Linked DNA regions of Homo sapiens: region 2 is linked to region 1. Evidence: fine-mapped expression QTL. A gene starts in region 1. The other region holds a variant in brackets. All regions are shown on one strand. Distances are between the middles of the regions. Region 1 holds the start of RETSAT (retinol saturase). Region 2 overlaps TCF7L1 (transcription factor 7 like 1).

Evidence for each region.
Region 2: its variant is fine-mapped to the expression of RETSAT in cerebral cortex (GTEx, PIP above 0.99).

Annotation. Positions count from the first base shown.
Region 1 is chr2:85,350,014-85,358,275 of GRCh38, forward strand. It overlaps RETSAT (retinol saturase), which reads right to left and starts at 4,515. Exons shown (of 11, transcript NM_017750.4): 1 at 4,323-4,515; 2 at 1,667-1,849; 3 at 767-1,008; 4 at 27-228. The coding sequence starts at 4,494. It overlaps ELMOD3 (ELMO domain containing 3), which reads left to right and starts at 4,756. Exons shown (of 14, transcript NM_001135022.2): 1 at 4,756-4,816; 2 at 5,063-5,157; 3 at 5,542-5,585; 4 at 6,954-7,239. The coding sequence starts at 7,186. RefSeq lists enhancers at 4,517-5,018, 4,583-4,982, 5,019-5,518, 5,153-5,212.
Region 2 is chr2:85,307,104-85,315,428 of GRCh38, forward strand. TCF7L1 (transcription factor 7 like 1) reads left to right here. Exons shown (of 12, transcript NM_031283.3): 11 at 539-614; 12 at 1,926-3,284. The coding sequence ends at 2,359. Among named protein-coding and RNA genes, the nearest start is that of TGOLN2, 17 kb to the right of the region's middle. RefSeq lists enhancers at 2,533-3,416, 6,282-6,782. The variant G/A (reference allele first, on the strand shown) is at 3,733.

The DNA of each region.
Region 1 (8,262 bases):
GCCCAGAGCCCAGGCCCAGTACCCACCGTAAGTGGGGAAGATGTAGCTGAGTACTGCCTGGAGCTCAGAGGAGGCCCCCAGCTGCTGCAGGACCTCAGCCAGGCTCTGGGTGGATGCTTGAAGGAATGGAGAGAAACGAGTCAGCAGCCCACACCTGTCGAGGAGCTGAACCACGGGCAATGGGAGGAATTTCAACAGGATGGCATGAGGGGCTCCACTGGATACCACCTGGGGGAGTGAATGAGGACAGCAGGCCTCACCTCTAGAACCGCTTTGACAGAACTGCTATCCCCATAGCCTGGACCAGCCCAAGAATCCAGCAACACTTACCCCTGACTGAACTTTGCTGAATTTGAATATTTTTAAAAAATCTATACTCTGTGAATTTTTCCCATCCTACACTCGGATGAGTCCTTTTTTTGCTTTTAATTTTCCTGCTCAAATTCCTTTTCAAAAATCCCAATCTGGTCTCGGATGCAGTAAAAAGGAGTAGTGATCTGATGTCATGGAAGCCAGCCTAGTCAGGGAGGAGAGCAGGGCATCCCCAGAGGCCAGGGTGACAGCAGCAGCCGTGGAGCCAAGGCTCCAGAGAGAGAGAGACAGAGAACTGGATGGACTTGGGTGGAGGCTGAGCTAAGAACAGATGTGACTCTTCCTCCCTTCCTGCCTCCCGCACTGCACTCTCCACCCCCAGTGCCTCCACTAATAATAAAGAAACCCAGCCTTATCGAGAACAAACTCTGGGTCCTCAGCATGTCCATGTTACCTTAACCAGCTTTATATACTTGTCAATGATAGCTTCCTCCTGTGGAAACTTCTCCTTGAGGCCCTGAATGTAGGCTTTCTCTCCACTGTACATGGGGTACTCCTTTCGGCCATTGGGCCCTTCCAGTACCATGATGTCAAAAGGAGAGGACAGGGGAGCCCAGTCCAGCTGCCCTTCAGTGATCTGGTCCAAGATAAAACGGCCAATGCTGCCCTCTTCCATACGCCCAATGTAATGGATTCCTGTTGGGAGATGGAAAAACAAGGTAGTAAAGGGATATGGGGATTGAGCCCTGGAAAGGTGGCTGAGGAAGTGAGGTGGAAGAGTTTATCTGGCCTGGCCAAGTTCACGCCCAGAGTGAGCTGCTCACTCTGTCTGTAGGGAGGTGTCACAGCAGAAACCGCCAGATCGCTGCCCGATTCAACTCCCAGTAGCTATGCTGTCACATAAGAAAACTGCCCAGAGGCTGGGCACGGTGGCTCACACCCATAATCCCAACACTTTGGGAGGCAGAGGGAGGTGGATCACTTGAGGTCAGGAGTTCGAGACCAGCCTGGACAACATGGAGAAACCCCATCTCTACTAAAATACAAAAAAATTAGCGGGGTGTGGTGGCCCACTTGGTGGGATTACTGAGTGTAATCCCAGCCACTCGGGAGACTGAGGCATGAGAATCACGAACTCAGGAGGCAGAGGTTACAGTAAGCTGGGATCACACCACTGCGCTCCAGCCTGGGTGATGAAGTGAGACTCTGTCTGAAACAAACAAAGAAAAAAAGTACCCAGAGAGAAGATGGCACTTCCAAAACAACAGAAATGCTCAGTATCACCCCACAAGGGCTGCTCCAAGCCTCTTCAACATACAGCCATGCTCCCAACCCTTTTCCACACAAGCCTTACCTGTGTCAAATTCAAGGCCATTCTTTCCAAAGGTATGACAGCAGCCCCCTGCCTTGGTATGTTGTTCCAGCACCAGGACTCGCTTGCCAGCTTTAGCTAGAATTGCAGCTGCAGCCAGGCCCCCAAAGCCACTGCCAATTACCACCACATCCAGCTTCTCCGGCACTTGGTTGGCTGAAAAAGCTACAGCAGAAGGGCCAAAGGGTGGGTTTCTCAGGCAGGGGCAGGGAAATAGCAAAGATAGGGAAACCAAAGAAGACTTCTCTAGCTTGTACAGTGCAAGAAACCTCTAGAGTGGTTTGGCACAGAACTCTTGACTAACATGTTTCAAACATTTTACCTGGGAATACTCAGAACCAGCCAGGCAGATTTGGGGTTTTGCTTATTTGTTTTTTGAGACAAGGTCTCACTATGGCCCAGGATGAAGTGCAGTGATGTGATCACAGCTCACTGCAGCCTTGAACTCCTGGCCTCAAGCAATCCTCCTGCCTCTGGTTCCCGAGTAGCTGGGACTACAGGTGCATGCCACCATGCCGGGCCATTTTATTTTTATTTTTATTTTTATGTGTTTAATTATTTTTTAAGACGGAGTCTCACTCTGTCACCCAGGCTGGAGTGCAGTGGCGCAATCTCCGCTTACTGCAAGCTCCGCCTCCTGGGTTCACATCATTCTCCTGCTTCAGCCTCCCGAGTAGCTGGGACTACAGGTGCCCACCACCACGCCCGGCTAATTTTTTTTTTTAATATTTTTTAGTAGAGATGGGGTTTCACCATGTTAGCCAGGATGGTCTCGATCTCCTGACCTCGTGATCCGCCTGCCTCGGCCTCCCAAAGTGCTGGGATTACATGCATGAGCCACCGCGCCCCGCCTATTTTATGTTTTATAGAGCCAAAGTCTTGCTATGTTGCCCAGGCTGATCTTGAACTCCTGGCCTCAAGTGATCCACCCACCTCGGCCTCCCAAATTGCTGGGATTACAGGCATGAGCCAACACACCAGCCCACAAGCCGGGTTTCTTTGGAAGATGCAGGGTCTGCAAGCAATAGTGGAATAGCTGGGTCTTATGGTGGCTCTTCCAGGTCCTGATGAAAAGGCTTGGGCAGGACAGAACTGCTCAGAGGCTGCAGCTCTGAGAAATCACAGCACCAGCCCCTCCCATAGGGAAGGTCTGGGGGCAGTGCTGAGGGAGGCAGCACCTTCTCAGAAGACAAAACTGGATAGCAAGTGGTGCTATATGGGTACTTCCGACACAAGATCTGTTCTTTAACAATCACTGGCAAAGAACTGAGATCTGGGATGTTTCAAGATACAAGAGAACTTGGCAAACTGCTTATTTTTTTAATGTTTTTAGAGAGATCAATAGTAAAAAAAAATTTCACATGTAAGTATATAAGATAAATACATGAAACAAGTGTCACAATGCAATACTTAGTGGAACTATGTATAATGCACTCTGATATTTTCTATTCTACTGCATTCTAAAATACTAGTTGTGGCCAGGCGTGATGGCTCACGCCTGTAATCCCAACACTTTGGGAGGCCGAGGTGGGCGGATCGCTTGAGGCCAGGAGTTCGAGAGCCTTGACAACATGGTGAAACCCTGTCTCTACTAAAAATACAAAAATTAGCTGGGCATGCCCACTACTCGGGAGGCTGAGGCAGGATAATCACTTGAACCCAGGAGGCGGAAGTTGCGGTGAGCGGAGATCGCGCCACTGCACTCTAGCATGGACAATAGAGCGAGACTCTGTTTCAATAAATAAATAAATAATGCCAGTTGCAACTCACTAAATTGATTTCATAGCCCACTAATAGATCACAATCCGGTTTGAAAAGCAGTTAAGCTAGTCATCTCATTTTTAGACCAGCCCAGGTAGGTGCTAATGGTTATGCAGCAAATTAGTGACAGAGTCCAAGCTAAAACTCAGTTCTCAGAAGTCCAGATGATTAGTCCTTCCACTTAGAACAGTACTGTCTCCGATTGTGTAGCAAGATATGACACGGAGAATTCTAAAATTTACAAGTGAGAGGGACTCCGTAGATCAAACAGGTGATCCATTATTTTTTAAAGCAGCAGAACTCTTTAAACTCTAGAAGCAACCACAAAATATGTTTTAAAGATGAGAGTGGAGAGCAGGCTCTGAGCCTGAGGCGCCTTGTTGAACCTCTGCCAATGTTTCAGAACTAGGGTTCAATCCTTACGATTTGGGACCATGCAAAGCCTGTTAAATCACCGGACGGGCAAAACGCAATTTCCTACGCATTTCTGTGCTGCTCCCCCACACCCCTGAGCTCGCATGGGAGGGTAGGTGAAAAAGTTAAGGTCCTGGAACCAAGTGGAGGAATGAGTCACGGGGATTATCAGTTCCACGAGCCACGGGGATTACAAGTGGCAGGGCGGGTGCCAACACCTTGCAAACCAAGGACAATGACCACACCCTTGGGACTACTATTCCCGGGGCCTACTAGGGCAAAGGCTATCGACAGTGTTGCACACTAAAGCGGGGCTCCTCCACGTGCAAGGAAGCCCTCCTAGTACTTTACATATGGGGAAACTAAGGCCCACGTCTGGTAGCGGCTGCCTTGGCAAAATGAGAACCCAAATCTGTGAGAAAGCCTCGAGTGCAGCCCCGGACCCCAGGGTCCCTCCTGCTACCTTGTTTGAGAACCTTCTTCCTGGCCTCCTTGTCAGTTACCAGGGGCGCTGGGGGCCGTTTGACATCTTCGGAGAAAGGATTCGGGGAGCTGCCAGAGAATAGTCCCAAGTAAACTTTGCAGAGGACGGCCAGCAGCAGCACAGCCAGGAGCAGCACCAGCGGAAGCCACATCACGCCGGCGTCGGGTCGGGTAAATGGGACAGCTCCGACTGCGCTCAGCCTCTAGGACTGTGGCTCCGCCCGGGCTAGTTCGCTCTCCAGTCAGGAGGCGGAGGCAGCTTTGAGCACTGATTAACCAGCCAGCCAGCGAAGAGCCAACTCTCAGGTGATGATTGACCCTCCCGGCTCTCCGTACTTCTTTTGGGTTTCCATTGCCTACTGGGAAATGTAGTTCTCGGGGCCAGGGGAGCCGGCACGGAAGCGGCTGTGCGCATGAGCAGATGAGGCCTAGCCGAGGCGGCGGGACCCCCAAGTTTGGAAAGCTCTTTTAACGGTGAGAACGCGTTAACACTTGCCAAGGGGAGTGGTTGGTGCCTGTGCGGAGCTAGCAGCCGGCCTGAGGAGGGAGGGAGAATGTGATCCGGTGGAAATTATCACTATGGGGCGAGACAAGGCCGAGAGTTGTAAGACTGAAAGAGAATCCCGACTGGGAGACAGGAGTCCTGAGTTCTGGTCCTGGCTCTGCCCTGGACTCGCTGCCTTGAGGTGTTAAATTGCTTTCCTCGTCTTACGCCTCCAGGCTATGCGAAAGTTCTGTCCAAAGGCTGCTCACAGCCCCTGTCTGACTGGTTGTCATGATGAATTGAGCTCTCTGTTACCTGCGCATCACAACCGGTGAGCGTCTGTCTCTGTGCCCCTCAAAGTGGCCCATAGTTTTGTCCTGGGGGCCCGCCTGGGACGGAGTCCTCTATGGCGGGTCCCTAATGACACCCCATCCGTGGGGAACCTGGGGGACGGGGAGCCGCCCATGGACAAGCATGGTGAAAGGATCAGCTAAGGGCCCATCTAATTTAAATTCCTATGCAGAGAATCTAACCTCCAGCAAGCAGTTGAAGAATCATACCCCCTCCTTGCCTAAAGAGGGTGCATAATGAATACTTGATTGGAGAAGGATCCATTTTTACAGGAAGGCCGTTTCCTTAGGTCCAACTATCAGGAATTTGCCTTTGAGTACTTCCTTGTTTAATGGAATTGTTGCTCTTTTCTTCTCTGCTACAGATAGTAACTGTCCCTACTGAAGGCCCCAGGAGTGCTCCAGCCAGGTGTGGAAAGCTGGTCACGATTCTATGCTACTTGGTTCATTTTCTACACAGCAACAGAAGAGCCCTCCTGAGATTGCTATTACCATACCCGCCTGTCACCTTGCCAAGGCTGGCCAATGTGTGTTTTGTCATAGGCTGTCATGGAGGCCATGATGGAGGAAAAGGAAAGGGGAGGCAGATGTTGAGGCCCCAGAGGCCACAGTGAGAGCAGTTTAGTTCCTGGGGTGCCAGGACTAAGGGGGCATTGCCCTGTCCCCCGGATTACAGTGAGCCACATGTCAAGCCCAAGAGCCAGGAGGTATTCTTCCTCTCAGTGTTAATAATCAAAGCATCCTGACACCAGCAGCCAGTTTTTATGGCATCCTGGAGGGCTGACCTCATAGAGAGGCTACCCTCCTTCCTTAGTCACCCAAAGTTGTGAACTATGATTGTCAGTTGTGTGTGGGCCATCTGCCCACTTAGGATGCAATTTTTGATGTGACAGACATTCCGGATGTCCAATTCCCCTGTGATGAGGTATGAGCCTTGTCCAGCCCTTTTCCTGAGGGAAGCAATGTCAGATGAAAGACTTAGAATTGCCCAAACTGGCTAGCCAGCTGCCACATGCACAGTATTGCTGATAACTGAGAAAGGTTAGAACATCGTGTTGCATTTTGAATTTCTACCATTGTTGGAACCAGGTCTAGTATTATAAGCCCCTGACCCAGCCTGTGTGTGAGGCCTAAACAAAGCCTGAGCACTTCAGCTAAGACCACCCACCAAGGTGACACCTTTAGCCTCACGCCTTTGATAAGCTGGCCCAGGTCCCAGTAACTCCATTGTCAGAAACAGACCCCATCCCTTCTAGTGGTGCTGCTGCCTTTTGGACACAGAATCCAGCTCACAGTCCCCTGTGTGGTCCCCTTTTGGCCATCCTGTGGCTTGGGTAGTAAGAGGTAAGCATTTGGCTGAGGCAAGTTGTTCATTCAGAATAAATTCACAGCTGCTTAAATTTTGTCAACAGGCCGAGCGTGTTGGCTCATGCCTGTAATCCCAGCACTTTGGAAGGCCGAGGCAGGCGGATCACGAGGTCAGGAGTTCAAGACCAGCCTAACCAACATAGTGAAACCCCATCTCTACTAAAAATACAAAAATTAGCAGGGTGTGGTGGCGCACGCCTGTAATTCCAGCTACTCGGGAGACTGGGACAGGAGAATCGCTTGAACCCGGGAGGCGGAGGTTGCAGTGAGCCGAGATCGCACGGCTGCACTCCAGCCTGGGCAACAGGGCAAGACTCCAACTCAAAAAAAAAAAAAAATTGTCAACAGAGGCATAACTGAATGGTGAAACCAGTTTTCTTTTTCAATTTCTTTTTTTTCTTTTGTGCAGAGCTGAGGCTTCGAAGACCTCAGAGGACTTCTCTCAGCACTCACAGAAACCTCCTACACCCTCGGATGGCACAAAGGGACTGTTTTCTTACTCTTAGTCTGAGTGACTGCCAAGGAAGGCAAAGGTAGAGCAACTGGATCTCTGGCTCTCCACATAGCTTCTGATCTCAGACCTTACTAAAATGCTTTCTGGGCCCAAGGACAAAGCTCACATGAACAAATGATTTTGAGTCATGAATGAAAAATCTTGCTCTTTCCATAGTAAAGAAGAATTAAGAGATGGACAGGTAAGCATGCACTCTTATTTGGGAAAGGTGGTGTTGGTTTGAGATATATCATTAAGTATAGTAAGAATATATTAAGAGAATATTTGGAAAAATTTAGAAACCCTCATTATAGTTCTCTTTGTTCTGTAAGAAGGAGCTTCTATTCACCTCAGGGTCAATTGCTTTTCCTAATAGCTTGTTTTGTAAGTGAGTTATGAGATTTTTGTTTTCTTTTTGCTTGGGTAGTGGGGAGAATTTCATTGAGGAATCACCCAAGAAATCTGTATTTCATTGATTTGGATCATTACCTTACTAGCCTCTTCCCTGTGAAACGCTTGCTTTGGCCTGATCATCCTCAGGACTCAGTTCAATGTGATATGTCTTTGTATGAGCCGGGCAGCTAACCCTACATGCCTTACCTTTCACACTACTTTGCCCACCCAAAAATGGTCTTAAATGGAGGCTGTGGGATTCAGTGGCCAGACTGGGACAAAGCCTTTGCTTTGGGTCTCCAGAAAGATTTTCTTCACTGTAGTAATATGCGAACTGTTCCAAAGAGGGAAGTCTTTGGACACTGGAGGGGACTGAATTGGAGAAGGAAAGGAAGGATGAAATGAATCTCAGGTACACAGATGCCTGCAGGAAGTTGTTCAGCACAATGAATCACCAAATATTTTAGAGATAAAATTTCAACAAAAATTTGAGAAATATATTTTGTGCTTAGTACTGTGCCAATGGTTGTGAAACATATAAAAGAAATATAAGAGCCTGGAGGCAGTGGCTCACGCCTGTAATCCCAACACTTTGGGAGGCTGAGGTGGGCAGATCACTTGAGGTCGGGAGTTGGAGACCAGCCTGGCTAACATGATGAAACCCTGTCTTTACTAAAAATACAAAATTATCTGGGCATGGTGGTGCATGCCTGTAATCCCAGCTACTCAGGAAGCTGAGGCAAGAGAATCGCTTGAACCCAGGAGGCGGAGGTTGCAGTGAGCTGGGATCACACCATTGCACTCCAGCCTGGGTGACCAAGTGAGACTCTGT
Region 2 (8,325 bases), 43 kb before region 1:
TCTGCCCTCGATTTCATAACACAGGGCACGGGGTTAGCTGTGGTAGGAAGAGTTGTCTCCAGCCACTCCTAACCCAGGGCTCAAAGACCAGTGTGTGAGCCTCAGGGGGCGTGTCTCTAAGCTCCCGGAAACCAAGCCAATTTTCGCATGCGTGTTCTTCTTTGCTTTTTTTCTGGTAAGAGGACCCACAGTTGCATCAAACTTTCAAAGGGACCTGGGACCCCTCAGAAAAGATCTAGAAGCACTGTTCTAGGGAGAGAAACAGAAAAACAGAGTCTGAAGGGCAGTGGAGGGAGGAGGCCTTCCAAGAAGGCCTGGACACCCGACCTGGAGGGGAAACGCGTTTGTAGGGGAGGAAGGGCTCCCTCTGCCTCCTCACGGGCTCCCACGGCTGTGATCTGAATTATCTCTCCACACTCTCCCTGAGGGATCGAGAGCAGTAAAGGGCAACGTCCTGTCTTCTCTCTGATCTGGGAGCCCCTGAGAAGCCAGCATTCTTCTCTCCCAGCTTACCTCTTCCTTTGGCTGTATTTTCCAGGGTAAGAAAAAGAAGAGGAAGAGAGAAAAGCAGCTGTCCCAGACACAGTCACAGCAGCAAGTCCAGGAGGCAGAGGGTGCGTCTCGGGGCACTGGCCTCTTCTCCTGCTTTTCCTTTTGTCACAGCCACACCTGCCCATGCTGTCTCTAGCTCCCTGATGGGTCAGGGCTTCTGCCTCGGTATTCGCGGGCGGGTATTATTACCCCTTTCTCGAGGTGGCCACTTAAGAGGCTCTGAGATGTGAAGGCATTTTCCCAGGCACTCTGCTTCAGTGGTGGTGGTAGGATTTGATCCCAGGACTTTGTCACTTCAAAGCCTAGACAATCTAATTCCATTGAAAAGTGAATCATCCTACCTGAGGGTTAATGGAATGAGGTTGAAATTGTCTTTGAAATACCCTTAGGAAGGCAGCACATGAGCCCCTGACATCCCACCTGTCAGTGGATCCAGGGGAGCCCGGGTTTCCTTGGATGTTTCTTTGGTTGAACACCAGAAAAAATTAGTTTGCTTGGGTTTAGGAGGCACTTTGTGTCAAAACCATGTATAAAATCTCTATATTACCAGAATCATGCCTAGCACAGAAAGATGCTCACACTGTGACGATTATTATTAATATTTAGGTCACGCCCCCCATCTCATGCTCACTCCAGGACAAGTGTATCGCTGCTTGCACGATGTAAAGTGCTTTCAATCTCTCTTCTTCATTCCTCCCTCCCTCCCTTTCTTCCTCCCTCCCTTTCACCTTCCCTCCCATTCTCCTTCCCTCCCTTTCCCCTTCCCTCCCTCCTTTTCTCCCTCCCTTTCTCTTTCCCTCCCTCTCTTTCCCTCCCTCTCCCCCTCCTTCCCTCCCTTCCCCCCCTCCCTTTCTTCTTCCCTCGCTTTCTCCTTCCGCCCTCCCTTTCTCCTTCCCTCCCTCCCTATTTCCTTGCCTCCCCTCCTCCCTTCCTTCCTTCCTTCCATTATACATAGGAGCGCACATGAGTGGAACCCGTACCTGCTACAGAACCCGCTGTCTGGCACGCTGTTCAGCAGGCATGCACTCTCTCTGACTGTATTAATACCATAAACCAAAGATTTCAAAGCAAACTGGAGATTCATCCCAAAAGTTACCAGCTTTAGGAAAGGAGGGTGGTCCTGTGAGACACTGAGCCGTCTTCTCTCCGATCTGATGCTGGGTGGATCTTCATCAGTTTGGGCGTTGCCTCTTCTCTGTGCTCTGGGTATTTGTGAATGCAGTTTCCTAGTCTTGAAAGCCTTGGAAGTAATGTCAGGTCCTCGCCAAAATCATCCCTGTGTCTCCAAAGCACATGTATCGCCAGGGCTGTTCCTCAGCCTCCTCCTCTCACAGAGCTATAGCTGCTCACTCTTTCTTGTATTTTCCCCCTAGGTGCCCTGGCCTCCAAGAGCAAGAAGCCATGTGTTCAGTACCTGCCCCCCGAGAAGCCCTGTGACAGCCCTGCCTCCTCCCACGGGAGCATGCTGGACTCCCCGGCCACTCCCTCTGCAGCTTTGGCCTCACCAGCTGCCCCTGCTGCCACCCATTCGGAGCAAGCCCAGCCCCTCTCCCTCACCACCAAACCAGAAACCCGGGCCCAGCTGGCTCTCCACTCTGCCGCCTTCCTGTCGGCTAAGGCTGCAGCCTCCTCCTCTGGGCAGATGGGCAGCCAGCCTCCCCTCCTGTCCCGGCCCCTCCCCCTTGGGTCCATGCCCACAGCTCTGCTGGCCTCTCCCCCGTCCTTCCCCGCCACGCTCCATGCCCACCAGGCCCTCCCGGTGCTACAGGCCCAGCCTCTTTCCCTGGTCACCAAGTCTGCCCACTAAGCTCCCCCCGACCCCTGCAGGCTGTCACATGACTCATTGAGTAGTAATGATTCAGAAGAAAAAGAAAAAGGAGACTTTATTGGTCAATATTTGACCACTCTGGACTGTTCTGTAAAGTGGCTGGTAACAACAGCACTTTACAGTTTGTAGATGTAACCAGTAGCTGATCTTAAGGCTTTTTTAAAAAACAAAACAAAACAACAAAAAAAAATCTTTATAAGAAAGAGAACTGAAAAGTAGCGTGCTATTCGTCCTGTAGGTGCTGTGGTGGATGGACCTGGGCAGAGGGCACTTCTCTCTCTTACCTCTCTTGCACTTTCTGTCTCCTGTCTCTTCTCGCCCCTGCCGCCTGCCCCAGCTTCCCCGACTCCATCTGCAGCTCTGCCATTGTGACATTTCCTGTTACCCAGCCCAAGTTTTCATCGTCTGCTCAATACCGTGGGTTCTTCTTCGTCCTCTGTCCTCTGCCCAGTGTGAGGCCATCACCATGTGAGAAGACATCTTGGCCTGATTTGCTGCCACCAGCGTCCCCTCCCTCAGTGGGCCCGAACTCGCCAGCCCCAGCTTTCAGTGGAGAAAGCGGTCCTCTGAAATGGTTTCCTCCCAACCCCCGCATTTAAAGGGACTCAAGGTGCCTGCCACTTCCTCAGCGAAGAAGTCTGTGTTCCTCCCCGTCCTTGCCAGTGGCGATCATCCCTTCACAATCCCAGAGTGGCAGGCGGGACCGGCCCCATGGTCTGGCTCCTGTCACCTGGGTCCGTGCCAGCACAATCTGCCAAAGTTCTAGAGACCCTGTTCCCTTCCCCATCACCTCACATGCTTCTTCTGTGTGTATTTCTTTTTGTTTTTATGGTTTTTGGAGCAATTTAAACTCCCAGTTGTTTATTTTCACAAAAGAAAATAAAATTGCAGTTGCAAGACCTTTTCTGAGTGTTTCTTTAGTGCTTTTGTTGAATCAAACCACCTGTTTGTTTCACTCCCAAACCCTGTGTTAGACTTTCGCAGATATGCAAAGGAAGATTGCCACTTGCCACAGGGGAATGTTAGGCATGCCTGACACCCTTAGAAAACCTGAACCCAGCTTCCTGTCTCAAATGTGCATGGGCCAGTCAGTGTCCATGACTGAGCTGCAAAGGGGGTAATCATTTTCACAGCTGATTTAAATGAATTTGCCGCCTGGAATGACATTCAGCTTATGCTTCTATCACCCATTTGACTCGTAATTGCCAAGATGTGAGGAAGCATCTTTTGGATACTTTCCATAGTATCTAGCACCACAATTAATTTTTTGTAACAGCTTTATGGAGATATACTTCAGCCATTTAAAGTTACACTTCACCCATTTAAAGTATACAGTTCAGCTGGGCAGAGCC[G/A]CTCTTGCCTATAATCCCAATGCTTTGAGAGGCTGAGGCAGGAAGATGACTTGAGGCCAGGAGTTCAGGACTAGCCTGGGCAACATAGCAAGACCTGATCTCTTTAAAAAAAAAAAAAAAAGCAACTAGCTGGGGATGGTGGCACACAAGCCTGTAGTCCCAGCTTCTCAGGAGGCTGAGGCAGGAGGATTGCTTGAGCTCAGGAGCTCAAGACTGCAGTGAGTTATGATTGTGCCACTGCATTCCAGCCTTCTCAACAGAGTAAGACTCTGCCTCAAACAAAAAAGGTATACAATTCAGGCTGGGTGCGATGGCTCACACCTGTAATCCTAGCACTTTGGGAGGCCGAGGCGGGTGGATCACCTGAGGTCAGGAGTTCGAGACCAGCCTGGCCAACATGGCGAAACCCCGTCTCTACTAAAAATACAAAAATTAGCCAGGCATGATGGTGCGCACCTGTAATCCCAGCTACTTGGGAGGCTGAGACAGGAGAATCGCTTAAACCCGGGAGGTGGAGGTTGCAGTGAGCCGAGACAGCGCCATTGCACTCCAGCCTGGGCAACAGAGCAAAACTTCATCTCAGAAAAGAAAAAAAAGTAGACAATTCATTGGCTGTATGTTCAGAGTTGTGCACCTATCACCAGTCAATTTTAGAAAGTTTTTGTCAGTCCCAAAGGAAGCCCCATATCCTTTGAAAATCACTCCACATTTTGCCCATCTCCCCCAGCCCTAGGCAACCACTAATCTACTTTCTGTCTCCAAACTTGTCTATTCTAGACATTTCATATACAGTCATGCATCGCTTAGCAACTGAGACAACGTTCTCACAAATGCGTCGTTGGGCAATTTTATTGTGTGAACATCATAGAGTGTAGTTAGAAAAACCTAGATGGTGTACACACCTAGGCTATATGGTATAGCCTATTGCTCCTAGGCTACAAGCCTGTACAGCATATGCTACTGTACTGAATACTGTAGGTGACTGTGACACAGTGGTGAGTGTTTATGTATCTAAACATAGAAAAGGTGGCTGGGCGTGGTGGCTCACGCCTGTAATCCCAGCACTTTGGGAGGCCGAGGCAGGTGGATCACTTGAGGTCAGGCAGGTGGATCACTTGAGGTCAGGAGTTCGAGACCAACCTGGCCAACATGTTGAAACCCCATCTCTACTAAAAATACAAAAATTAGCCAGGTGTGTGGCACATGCCTGTAATCCCAGCTACTTAGGAGGCTGAGGCACAAGAATCACTTGAACCCGGGAGGCAGAGTTTGCAGTAAGCCGAAAGCGCACCACTGCACTCCACCCTGGGCGACAGAGTGAGACTCTTTCTCAAAAAAAACAGAAACAAAACATAGAAAAGGTGCAGTAAAATCTGGTGTAAAAGATAAAAGATGGGCCGGGTGCAGTGGCTCAAGCCTGTAATCCCAGCACTTTGGGAGGCCGAGCAGGGTGGATCACCTGAGGTCAGGAGTTAGCGACCAGCCTGGCCAACATGATGAAACCCCGTCTCTACTAAAAATACAAAAAGTAACTGGGCGTGGTGGTGGGCGCCTGTAATCCCAGCTACTCAGGTGGCTGAGGCAGGAGAATTGCTTGAACCCAGGAGGCAGAGGTTGCGGTGAGCCGAGATCGCACCGTTGCACTCCAGCCTGGGCAACAAGATCAAAATTCTGTCTTGGGGAAAAAAAAAACAAAAAACAAGATAAAAGATGGCATAGCTGTATAGGGCATTTCCCAGGCATGGAGCTTGCAGGACTGGCAGCTGCTCTGGGTGCGTCAGTGAGTGGTGAGTAACCATGACGCTGTACACTTAGGCAACACTAGGTTTATAAAGAAATATTCTTCTTTCTTCAAGAATAAATTAACCTTAGTTTAACTTTTTTACTTTATCAACTTAAACACTTTTTGACTCTTGTAATAACACTTAGCTTAAAACGCAAATACACTGTACAGCTGCACAAAGATATTTTCTTTATATCCTTATTCTATGAGCTTTTTTCTAATTAAAGTCTTTTTTGGGGCTGGGTGCAGTAGCTTATGCCTGCTAATCTCAGCATTTTGGGAGGCCAAGGTGGGCAGATCACTTGAGATCAAGAGTTTGAGACCATGACCTCAAAACCCCAACTCTACTAAAAATATAAAAATTAGCCGGACACGGTGGCGGGCGCCTGTAATCCCAGCTACTAGGGAGGTTGAGGCAGGAGAATCTCTTGAACCCGGGAGGCGGAGGTTGCAGTGAGCTGAGATCATGCCACTGTACTCCAGCCTGGGCAGCAATGCGAGACTCCCTCTCAAAGAAAACAAAAACAAAAACATTTTTTTTTTTACTTCTTAAACTTTTTTGTTTAAAACAATAAAAATATAGCAAATACATAAACCAGTAACATAGTCATTTCGTTCATTAAAAAGTACTATAGGCCAGGCGCGGTGGTTCACGCCTGTAATCCCAACACATTGGGAGGCCGAGACGGGCAGATCACCTGAGGTCAGGAGTTCGAGACCAGCCTGGCCAACATGGTGAAACCTCTCTACTAAAAATACAAAACTTACCCGGGCATGGTGGCGGCCGCCTGTAGTCCCAGCTACTCGGGAGGCTGAGGCCAGAGAATCGCTTGAAGCCAGGAGGTGGAGGTTGCAGTGAGCCGAGATTGTGCCATTGCAACCCAGCCTGAGAGACAAGATCAAAACTCTGTCTCAAAAAAAAAAAATACTGCACATAATTCTGTGTGATAGACTTCTTTGTATGACTGGCAGTGCAGTGGGTGGCTCCACCAATGCCAGCCTCTCCTTCCCCTGCCCCATGTGGCTGGGTCTGCAGCCTGCTCGGCCTCCCCTCTCTCAGACCGGGGGAGCTGAGGGGGTGAGGTAGAGACGGCCCAGGGGCAGAGCAGGGGGGTCGGGCTTGGTGCACAGGCAGACTCTGCCTTTGCTACTTCCTGCCTCTCTCTCTGTGACCCTGACCTCCCTTCTCCCCTGTCCCAGGACCTCTGGGAACTGACACTGTCCTGGCCAGGCCCCAGCATCTCACCCAGGCAGCCCAGCTAGAGCCATCTGTCCCTCTTGCCCTCCATCTGTGTTCCTGTGTCTCTTCCTCCTGAACACAACCTGAGGGCCTCACAAATATTTAGTTACATGAACGAAGCAGGCCGGGCACGGTGACTCACGCCTTCAATCCCAGCACTTTGGGAGGACGAGGCAGGCAGATCACTTGAGGTCAGGAGTTTGAAAATAGCCTGGCCAACGTGGTGAAACCCCATCTCTACCGAAAATACAAACATTAGTGGGTGTGGTGGTACATGCCTGTAATCCCAGCTACTTGGGAGGCTGAGGCAGGAGAATCGCTTGAGCACGGGAGGCGGTTGCAGTGAACAGAGATCGCGCAACTGCATGCCAGCCTGGGCGACGGAGCAAGACTCCATCTAAAAATAAATAAATTTTTTAAAAAATGGAAAAAGCAGAGGAGCCAGGGACCCGGCATCCCTCTGGCACGGGAATGGGAAGACAGCAGAAGAATCTGTGGGGGCAGTTTCCGGAACACCGGTCTCAGGTCATCTGCTGAGGAGTGGGGAAGCCCAGCTGTTTAGGTCTGGGGAACATCAGGTGCCCCACAGTGGCTGTGGCCTCTGCCATAGTGTAGTTCTTCCCTCCTCCCTCCAGCTGAGTCCTGAGATGCCAAGTACCAGTCAGGCTGCCTGCCTTTGCTCACATGCATTGGCATCCCTCTGGAGGCCTTGTGTTCTGATGTCACACTAAGAATCATGCATGTTCACTCACTCCGTGACTGCATAAAAGTTCATCCTGAAATCAGGCTGGTAATGAGCTGCTGTTCATGTGTGGTCTTCATGGGGGGAACCCAGTCATGTGCTCCACACTTCAAGACACGAAGGGGAAGATGGGAGGCAGTAAGCTTGACCTTCCTGCAGGTGCTGAGCCAGCTCATGGGGGCTGAGGACCAGGGCTGGGCTTTACCTGCCTCTGAAGGGGCTTGGAGCAGAGGCAGGGGAGGTGGAAGAATAGGAACCTGGGGCAGTGTCCTTCCCAGGCAGGAGGACACAGAAGAGCAGGCCCCTGCCAACATCAAGTTGAAACAGCTGTAAAAGTGGCCTGGGCACAAAGCTGGCAACTGAAGATAAGGCTCAGGACACAGCGAGCGGTCACCCTGAGGCTCTCCTGGGAGCAGGGAGTGGCTGTCTCCGGCCATGGTCCACAAAGGCACCAACCACTCCCCTTTGCAGGTGTGAAGCAGCAGCTGGGGACAGTTCAGCCCGGCTTAGGCATGACCTCTGTTTTCATCTGCCTGCGAGGCACCAAGGAGGACCTGCATCTGCCGTCCACCAACTACTATGTTTACTATGACACGGACATGGACCAGGCGTAAGGTGCACGTGTGTGTGTGGCCCGTGCCTCCCTGCTTGACTCAGAGAACGAGCAGAAGTTATGGAATGGGAGGAAGTAGGCAATTTCCAATTTGCACCTGGAAGTTTGTCACACCAAGGCTGTGGCTCAGCTTCACCCCTGTGGGGAGTCCCTAGGGACGAGCAGTCCTTGCAGTGGTTCTGGGGTTTTGAGGACAAAAGCCTGGAGATCGCACC